2 separate regions of the Homo sapiens genome follow, and region 1 is linked to region 2. A link means that fine-mapping ties the variant in region 2 to the expression of a gene that starts in the linked region. Tissue or cell type: testis. Region 2 holds a variant in brackets; the other region holds the start of a gene. All regions are shown on one strand. Distances are from middle to middle.

The links. PIP is the estimated chance that this variant, and not a neighbour inherited with it, causes the effect. A credible set is the group of variants that fine-mapping cannot tell apart.
Region 1: LINC00343 starts here. The variant in region 2 is the best candidate, but not a certain one, in a credible set for the expression of LINC00343 in testis (GTEx, PIP 0.78).

Annotation. Positions count from the first base shown.
Region 1 is chr13:105,703,703-105,709,095 of GRCh38, reverse strand. It overlaps LINC00343 (long intergenic non-protein coding RNA 343), which reads right to left and starts at 2,266. Exons shown (of 4, transcript NR_046391.2): 1 at 2,179-2,266; 2 at 1,467-1,996; 3 at 1,259-1,382. LOC105370345 (a long non-coding RNA gene) reads left to right here and starts at 2,240. Exons shown (of 7, transcript XR_931698.2): 1 at 2,240-2,426; 2 at 3,724-3,905.
Region 2 is chr13:105,728,704-105,734,096 of GRCh38, reverse strand. The region is part of intron 3 of LINC00343 (long intergenic non-protein coding RNA 343); the gene reads right to left. Among named protein-coding and RNA genes, the nearest start is that of LINC00343, 25 kb to the right of the region's middle. The variant G/A (reference allele first, on the strand shown) is at 2,792.

The DNA of each region.
Region 1 (5,393 bases), 25 kb after region 2:
AGGCCAGGAAGTAGATCAGTGGCTGCTTTGGGATGGGGCAGTCAGTATCAGCTTTAAGGGGTAAACATATGCCAAAACCTGTTAAGTGGTACATTTTAAACATGTAAAATTTATTTTGTATCAACTTTTTCCTAATATAGCAGTTAACAAAAAGATAATTTTAACTACATTTATCACAATATTTTGGTCTGGGCTTCATGAACAATTACCTAAATGATGGCTCAAAAATCTCCTTTTGACATCTGATCAGATGAAAGAAGATAGTAAATGCTGCAACATGTGTGCCAGTGGAGAATCTGTAATTCTGTCCGCATAAATGTAACTTAAAGTTTACCAAGAGACTATCTGGTTTAATGTAATAACCAAATAATCTTTTACAGACATTCATACTCTCACTCATTCTTCTGCACTCATCAAATATTTAATTAGATACATGCTCTCTGAAACATGTATGTATATCATGTTTTAAAAATCAGATGCAAATTTTGTCTTTTTGCTCTCATAGGAAAGGATGTTACACAAATTGTGTACAAACAACTAAATCATTTTAAATCCTTAAAATAGGTAACACAGAGCTTGATACATAGGATATACTCAATTACAGTAGCACATCGTAAACAAGAGTGATAAAAGGATAAATCCAGTATCATGGGGCATTTAGAGAAGGAAGATGTGTGTGTGTGTGTGTGTGTGTGTGCGCGCAGAAGGGGTATGTTTGAGGGCAAGTGTGAGTATCTAGAAAGCTTCCTGAACTGGATGACTTTGAGAACTGATTCAGCGCTGTCCTGCATCACAGGGCTACAGGTAATATGAAGATGAAGCTGGGTAAATAGATCGGAAGAAGAAAAATAGGTTTAGGTCTGAATTTTATATTTTTCCTTTTTTTAAAAAAATTGATTTCCCCCTCCTCTTCATTGTAATCTTCATTAACAGAACAGAAAATACATTGAAAATAAATAATTAAAATGCCAGTTTTATGACATACATCAAAAATGGAGGTTTGGAAATTAATTATATATGAGAAGACAGCTACCTGCTGTTAAAAAATAAGAAAAAAATATACAGACATCACACAAAAAGTTTCCCACACCAGGTTTTTTCATAGCTTGCACAGCTTCTTCCTTTCATCACTGGACTCATTTTCCCACCTTCCCGACCCCAGTTTAGGATGCAGTTCATTCCGTGCAATTTCTAGCCATAAACTCTAGAGTATAGAAAAACATTCACATTACTCTGGGTGTTTGGTTCAGGAGTTTACCTTGAGTATCAGGTTGGATGTTTTACTCGCAAATGTTTATAAACCTGCTACTGCATGCAACGCACTGCTCTAGGTACTAGAGAAGACATGCCAAATAGTGAAAATACTTCACCATCAATGGAGACTGCAATAGACAAATACGGATGATGGAGATAACATACCTACAATGTCGAAGAGGAAAAATGTACTGAGTAAAGAACAGGCTTACCTCAAGGTTTTGCTTGCACCTTGTGGCAGTTCTAATTCCTTTTGCATCTCCTGGAGGTGTTTACTAGCTTCTATATGCATATATTACCACACCATGAAGTAGTGTCTATATACTTGAGAGATGATACTTCAAGCTTCTATTTCTTTAGAACTCTTTTTTAAAGGTTTAATGTTTGAAAATGTTAGTAGGTGTTATACGACTGCATATGTTAAGTGTATCTCCCTTGCGTAGTTGAATGGTGTGGGAGTGCACTGTTAAACCATCTGGTTGGTCCAGTTGAAAAATCCCTTTTACTTGATGAGATGGGGATGTAGGCTGAAGAGCCGGCCTGGTTGAAGAGCCGTGGGAACACCCTCCTCCTTCCTTCCTTATTTCTTCTGAGGTGGAAGTGTGATGCTCCAAAACAGTTCCTCTCTCTTCAGTTCCTTCTGTCCTTTTCTTAAGCTTAATAGTTCTGTGTTCTGGAAACCATTTCATTGGTTTTTGATTTTATAGTGCTCTCTTTACTCAAATGTACACAGCCAAGGGTACTGAGGAGTAAACAAAGTAGAACAGTGTTACACCCCTTTCAAATTCATTCACACTTCCACCAGAGTGATATTTCACAGGTTTTAATATTATCAGGTGACTTTCCTATGTAAAAGCACCTAGTCACTCTCCATGACAAAGCCCTGCTCCTTGGCATAGCTTGTCCATATCCATACCTCCCTACCTTTCCAGGTTTCTTTCCCATAGCCTCTTTGTAGAATTCACTGCAGCCTAACTGCCTTCCTAACAGCCTAACTGCCTTCCTTCTGCCTGCCCAGAAGTGTACCAGGCTCACTCGTGCCTTTGCTCACTCGGATGCCTCCCTAGATCACGTTTTCACCTCCCTTGTTCATCTGGCTCTCCCCACCCTCCTACTTTCAGACTTATCCTTCTAGGTCAGCAAATCTGGAGAGCCTCTCCTCTTGATCTAGGGTGAGCCAAGTGCCTCTTTGTTCCCTTTGCCCAGTGAACACACTCCTAAAGCAATGCATGATGTATGTTACCCCATTAAATCACAGGTTATATCTTGGCATCTGTGCCTGGCACATAACAGGCACTCAATAAGTATTTATTGGGCTGAAGTGAAATAAATAGTGTTTTAGATAATCAAGTACAAAGCAGAGTTTTAAGAGGCTAAATAGGTCAGTGTGATCATCTTTGTCATAGATTGTAGTAAAAATAATCTGTGAAAAGTGACTGATTATTGACAGGTAGCCTTGGGTATGCAGCTCAAGTAGGCATTATAAAATAAAAAACATCACATTCCATGTATTTTCAAAAAAAGCTTCTGGCTTACTCAAAAGGTAAGTGTTCTTTAAACAACTTCAATGGAAAAGGAGTTTCTTCCAAATGCTTGGAGAACTCCTTCTCAAGTCCGGAATAAAGCAAGGTCTACAGAGACAAAGTATAAATAAAACCATGGTGCTGAGCTGGTACCACTATTGGGCTGCTAAGCAGTGCTAAGCATTGCCTTCAGATGAGTTATCTAGCCTTTGTAAAGCTCAGATTCCACAGCTATAAACTGAGATGAATAATAATACACAAAACACTAAGCTGTTGAGTAGATTAAATGAAATTATTTATGTAGAGCAAATAGAACAGTACTGTACCTTATAAAATTTAAAACCAAAATGTAAATTCTGATTTTTACCCAAGGGTCAACTCCGCACAATTTTGCAATGGACCCTTCCCCGGCCCTCCAGAAGCTGAATATCGTTGTGTATCATATCCAAATTCAGTATCACCAGGGCATAGAGTAAGTGCCAACTGTGAGGCCATAGCTATGCGTCCACTCCCCTGAAACACATTGTGTACCTTCATTCTTGGAGTTGAGTCTTTGCATTTCATCCTCCAGAGTGAGAATAGACTGCGTGTTGGAGAGGTCAGGGAAATTATGTCTTTCTATGTCTAGCCCTTTATAGGTCGATTATTTGAATGCTTGACAGCATCTGTCCACTTATCTATCCCTGCAATAATAAAATACGGGACTAAAGTAGCTCGTATCTCTAGTGGGAGAGTGCATATATTTTATACGTCAATTCTTTAAAAGGGGAAATTCTTTCAGAGCTTCAGAAAATATCACGGAAGAGTTAAAAGAATGTTTGAGAAGAACATGTCTGAGTATTACCTACTAGCATTACAATTTTACTGCTTTAAAGTAATTATAATTTTCATTGCAGGATCTATGAAAAAGGCTTTTACCTGACGGTAATTCTTCTTGTACTTACAGGTCATTATTACAATGAAGGGAAGAAAGGAAGACATGAAGGGGAAATGGGACTATTTACCAAGTGTATCTGCATAGACTAAAGGAGACAAGAGGAAGTACTGAGCACCTTGATTCCTGCAGATAATTATTTAAGAACCATAAGAATTCTTTCCTAGCTTCTCATAAGCCTGCTCCTTCAAAGGGTGAGTAGTTGACATGATTTTACATCCCATTTATATTTCTTTATTAGATAATTTTATTTCAAATCTAGTCTTATTTTTTCTGAACCTTCTGGGATATATAACATTTTATATTATCATTTATGTCATCAAGAATGTAGATTTATATTCTTTTCTATTCACATGTTTATGTAAATAATTGAACACCTCTAAATGACAGATACTATCATTTTATATATTGTTAATAAGTATCTTCATGGCTGGGCGTGGTGGCTCACGCCCGTAATCCCAGCACTTTGGGAGGCCGAGGCGGGAGGATCACCTGAGGTCAGGAGTTTGAGATCAGCCTGGCGAACGTGGTGAAATCCCATCTCTACTAAAAACAACAAAAATTAGCTGGGCATGGTAGCATGCGCCTATAGTCCCAGCTACTAGGGAGGCCAAGGCAGGAGAATCGATCGCTCAAACCTGGGAGGCAGAGGTTTCAGTGAGCTGATATCGTGCCACTGCACTCTGGCCTGGGCAACAGAATGAGACCCTGCTTCAATAAATAAATAAATTAATTAATTAATTAATAAAGTATCTTAATGACAAATATTTAAATATATATAAATATTTACATTTACATATGGGAAGAGAGATCTGAAATTTTAAGCAACTTTTATCCAAAAACCTATTTTTTTCAAAGTTCCTCCAACATCTATAAAAGAAGTAAAGTCACTTATAGATCTATCTTACTTCAGGGCCTATGTTTTCCTCTACCATACAACACTGCACATTCACAGACACAGAAATCTTTTACATTTCTAAAATAAATAAAACATCCAAACTTCAGTTTAAAAAAAATGGATCTACAGATCCACCATAGACTAAACGACCAAACATAGTCAGAGGTGTTTACTTGTTTGTTTCGGTCTTAAGGGAATCTTCAAACTACCCTAGAGCCTCGTGTATCCAATGAGAGCAGTTTGGACATTGAATGAATGGTGATGTCATTAAATGAGCTATGGAGCAAGATGTAAGAACACGCTTTAGAGTAAATAACATATTTGGCTTCTGAGGTATAAAAAGGGAAGGAGGCTTTCTCAGGACATTTGGGTACCTGGTCCTTCATACTCAGGAGGTTTTTCCATCTTCATGTCATGGAATAAACTATGCTTTAAAGAAATGCTGCGTCAGCAGAAAGTGTTTCAAATATAAGGAAATTGTCATAGCTTTGAAATTATGTCAAATATCATTTTAACTAAGAGAGCCATTGTCTTTCCATATATTTATCTAGAAGAAAATTTACTGGACAAAATAAATATAGAACAACTTCATGTGTAGTCATTAATGGTCGGATAGGCAGTTACTATAAAATATGAATAATCTAAAAATCATTTTAGCCATTTGTTTTTAATAAATCTCACTTGTGATTGATTTATTAAAAACAGGGCCTCCAGAAGAAAGAAACTTAATACCTTTCCTCCATCATTATGAAGGCACTAGTACTGACGTAACTAAAATTAGATG
Region 2 (5,393 bases):
CCTCTACGCATAGTTCATGGACCCCTGTTTTAATTCACAAGTCTAAAATCAGTAGTGAGAGTCATTTGGTTTATATTTTAAAGATCAATAAAAATTTTCTTCTTATGCTCCCATCTTGTTATGCATATTCAATCAGAATTCTAGGCTATGGTTTTCAATTTTAAAAGCCGGGTATATCTGAAACTCAAAGCATAAACATTTGTTAAATCATTCATGGTGTCTGGAAAGGGTATTCTGAAAGCTAATTCCTAATGATGAAAACAATAGTATATATAAGCATGATTTGAAAAGATAAACACAGAATATAAGTTATTTTAACCACTATACTTCTAAATAACTAATATCAAGAAATTGCTATCCTTTAAAGAAATATTGGCAGTGTGCTACAATGCCACCTATTAATAATATTTATATATCAACATTTTATATTATAGTTCCTATTTGTGAGTACCTAGACCAATGCTGACTTCTGAGATGGGTCAACCAATTCCTGACTATACCCACACTCATGCGTAGGTGTGTCCATGATTTTACCACATCCAAGAACTTCAGAGCTGGCCAATATCCCAAAATCCCTAAGAGAAATCAAGATCGTCTTATAGAAAAACAAGCGCTCTCCACATGTTCAGCTTCTCTAGCTCTTTTTTTTTTTGGTTTATTTTTATAGGAATGTGTATTTGTGGAGGAACTTCACAGGTATGAGGCAAGCAAAAGCTTTCATTCATTTAGGGAGAGTGATGGAAGAACTATGCAGAGAGGCAGCCACGCAGTGGCAGGAGGTGGGAAGAGGGTGCATTCAGACATTCTCTGCAAATTTTGCAGCCAAAAGAACTATTTCTTTTTTTAGAATCTTCTAAATATACAAGTAAAAAAGAATTGTGAAGCATGTATGCATCACATAACATTGCAAATCATGACATAATATAATATAATGTAGTCATCTTTTTTGTGGAGCAGAATGTGTATGCCATGTTGCTTTCCCAGAATATTTATAGATTTCCTGAGAGTGACTAATTGTTCTCCAAAATTATATTTTTAGTTGCCTTTGCTGTATCCACAGCTCTAAGAAACTGAAAAAATGGAAGCCTTTTGGCACAAGTATCAATGAACTCCCATCTGCTGTTAGTGGTTTCATTACAAAAACGTGTGTATCTCTAGAAGAATTTTTTTAGAAAGAAGCCATTTCAGCTCCATGTCAATCGATAGCTTTACAAGTAACCCATCATAGTTGATTTTATATGAGCTTAGCCCTTTCAGGAAAAAGAAATCATTCCATGAAGCAATCTTACAAAAACTGTGCTAGGATATTATATGTATGAGAAGACTCCAAGAACACAAACCCATGAACTGAAGCTAATGAATTATCTATGGATTTCAGTTCAGATTTCCCAGGTTTACTTGAGAAGATGAATATATTCAGACAAATAAATGCCATTACTATTTTTTTGTCTGCTAGCAAATGGCATTATCAACAGATTTGCCTTTATAAGATGTACACATTGCTTTACCTAGGGTAGTTGAGAAAATATTAATCGTCAGAAATACTGTAAATTCCAGTCATGTATTTATGAAATATATTGATATTGTCAGTCTCTATTTATTATAGTGTGCTACAAAGTCTAGACAAAGTAATCACACATTCTTTGTAAAGGCATGGATTGCAAAAATCACTGAATTTGCTGTAATGCTAATCCCTGGGTCTCATGCATTAATTTTTTATAGTTGATTTTACATTCCTATGAAGAAAAAATAATTAACAACACTTTTCCACCCTTCTAATTTAACTAGAATCTTGCATTTAGAATAACAAGTAATGTTTAATTTGACCATTGAGCTATGTCTTCATTTGCCCATTTCTCAATTCCAATTTAAAATGCAAATATTAAAAATTTCAAATATTTCCTCTCTAAGAACATCTCATAGTGATGCAGCTTGTGTCACTATAAAAACATCAATTTCCAAATTCTCATTCATTGCAGTTCCTCATCTAGTTGCTGAATAAAAACAGTATCTCTAACCCTGAAGTTTTATTGTCCATTAGCTTAAATTCAACCTGATTTTTAAAAATGTAAAAGCCATTACTAAAAATACTAAATGTAAAGAAAAACAGAGCTAACACGTGACAAATCTAAGTGGGCTGACTGACATAGAATGAGGAATCTATTAAATCTTCAAAGATCTAGTTTTCTGCAGCCCCCAACCTCCTTTGCTCTAGGCAATTCCAAATATCTAGCATTAATCATGCATTAGTTCCTCTTGCCCCAGCTTCCTCTCCCATACTTCCTAAAATGCAGCGTAACATTTATTGCCATCCCTGGAACTGATTCGGTGCACACTACCACTCAACAGAAGAGTTTATATTTAAATTATGGACTCTCCAATAGTTTAAACATGTTTATTTTCCTCTTGCCTTGCTCTTGGTCTTGTCCACAGGAAATTTATTTTTGCCTGACAGCCATCCATTTATAAAAAGTTGCTTTGTACAAACTTCTTTATCTTCTTTGCTGATGGTCTCATTTTCTTTGCGGTCTATTTGTCTGTACTGATATTTTTCTGTGTGATAAGAAGGTTATCTACCAAATGGCAGTAGACTTATTGCCAGTAGTGGCAGCTGTTCAATTTTAGATGATCTTCTGAATCATAACTCTCCTAGGGAAAAGACACAGTGTATGTGCATTAAATGTGATTATTTTAAAATTTGCTTATTCACATACACAATCAGAAATTTAGCTTTCCATCTTTGGGGCAGAAGAATAACTCTCCGTAAAAAGAGGTCTTGCATTTTTCTGAT[G/A]ACGTTCACTCCAGGCAGCCTAACAGCTTTCAATTCTGTCTCCACCACTTATCCAGCATTTGACTTTGGTCAGGATACTAAATTTCTATGTCTTCACTTTGCTCATCCCCAAAGTGAAGACAAAAATATTACCATCTTTGGGAGTATTGCTAGCAGGATTGAGTGAGTTAATATGTGTGAAGCTCTCAGTTGGTGCCTGGAAGGTAGAAGGCACTCCATGAGCGTTGGCCATTCTTATTATTGCAAGAATAACTTTGTCTCAATGACAATCAAAACATCATCTTGGGTTTTGTCTGTATGACTGATGGACTGGCATTTACATCACATCAACCATTATTTAGGATAGGATAATCTCAGTTGTTGAGTGATGTTATTACAGAAGTTCAGTAACATTCAAGAAAGTCTCAGCAACACTATTCAATAATATTGAAGAACCATATCACCTTTTACAGTCAATTTAAATAACCAGGAAACTGCAAACAACCACACTTTTTCCAGAGTTGCTTTCCTGATGGGGCAAGCAGAACAGTACAATTGGTACAATGTACATCAAGTGTGGGCTTTTCTCAATAATGTTAAGTGTAAATATAAATATAGGAATGTAAAAAATGTAAAGGCTATTTTAATTGTATGTGTGTGTTATGAAGGTATTCTGACAAAAATTGAAAACGTTTCTATTATTCCATCAGATGCAGAAACAAAGGAAGTAGTAGTATGGGCTGCTTCATATTTTGAGACACAGAAGTCCAGACAGGTACCTAGTTACATGTTAAGGCCAGAAACAGGGGAGCTGTTACTGACTCCTCTCTTTCCCTCCACCACATCACCCAGCTGTGCTCCTACTTACTGCTCATTCAGCCCTGTTGGCTGCAGACTCTAAGTGTCTCTTAAATCTATCCCCATTGGTTATTCTCAAGGATGAAGCTCCACCATCTTGAGCTTGGATGACTGCAATAGTCTCCTCAACGGTGTCCAAATTCGATTTTCTCACCTAAAACCATAACCAGAGAAACCTTTTTAAACCTGTATTTGGGGCATGGTCCTTAGAGGCTTAAGCCTTAAGTGGCTTCCTATTGCCTACCAAATGAAGTCTCCAATCTTCAGCTTGACGGTGGGGCCGTGAGTAACTGAGCCCTGCCTCCTGGACAGCCAGGGTCCCTCTTTGCTCTGCTCACTTATCACGTTGGTCTTCCTATCCTGGAGTGTGGCTCACTCTCCACACCATCAACTGTTTAATTGCTGCCCACCCTTCAAATCTCAGCATCAACAGTGTCCTTCGATACAGGCCTTTTCTCCCTGCACTGGCACCCCGTTCATAAACACCTGCCATTTCTAATCACACCAACCTGTGCTTCTCCTTTTGAAGTGTTCACTCCGTGGGATACTTGTTGACATTTTCTCCATTCGAATATGAGCTCCATGGGGGCAGGCACCATATTTGTCTTGTGGCAGATGTTAGCCTCTGATTGGGCAGAATATCTGATACATAATTTTCAATGCTCGTTGAATATGTAAATAAATTTAGAGAATGCCTAGATAATTTCTTAATACCCAATTACTGTATTTTGAGATGGCTTGCTGAACTGGTTTAAATTTGGATCTGAATAATGCCAGACCTACTTAATTAAATGAAATTTTAAATTATTCAATGAAGGTATTTGACCATGAAATGGAAATATAATGCAGCTGTTAAAAACATCATCACCATGGCTGGAATGCTGTGTTCAAATACTGCCTGTGCAACTGAGATGTGTCCCTGGGCTAATTACTGACCTCTAGTTCCTCCATTTCCTCAGCTGTCATATTGTGAGAAGTAAACACATGAAAATATCTAAAGCACTTAGAAGCATAATAAGCCTAATAGTTCAGACACAATCATCTAAAAGGAAAACTCTCTTTTCTTCTTCCATCAATTGGATGCTTGTCTTTCATATTTTCAAGCTAAAACTTTAGATAATATAAAATTATAAAATTGCACAAAGTAAAAACTCTGAAAAATTTTTCTATGAGCTTTCCTTTCACCAAATATCCAGATTGGTCTGGTCTGAACAATTTAGATGTTTGGAGTCTACAACAACATAGCACATATGCACTCCACCCAGTCAGATGGACGGAACAAATTAATCTTGGTATCATCATCCAGACTATTTGCCCATCACAGGTTTTCTCTTTTCACTCACTGAGCTGAGTATAGACAGTCTCTCAGACACTTCCAGATTGTCCATGGCAGGAAATTTCCTACCTGGACAGCAGTGGGTGGCCCATTGAAGGGAGAAACCAAGCATTTCGTCAGGATTCTTGATAAACTGCCATTATCTGAGCAGAGGGTTTTCCTTTTGTCCTGACAAAAATGTCTGTACACGTCTATTTTCATGTATTTTTATGTGATAATTTCCTATTCTACCACCTTAAGAATTCAAAATAATCTTTCATGGAAAAGCATCAAGAGCTTAACAAAAATCACATTGAGTTACAGTTTCTGGTTTTTCTAAAGAACAAAGCCTTATTAAGTTCTTAAGTATGATTCAACAATTAAATCAAATGAAATCACTAATTTCCGCCCCCCTCTTTCACTCACCCCAGACTGCTTTATAGAGGATGT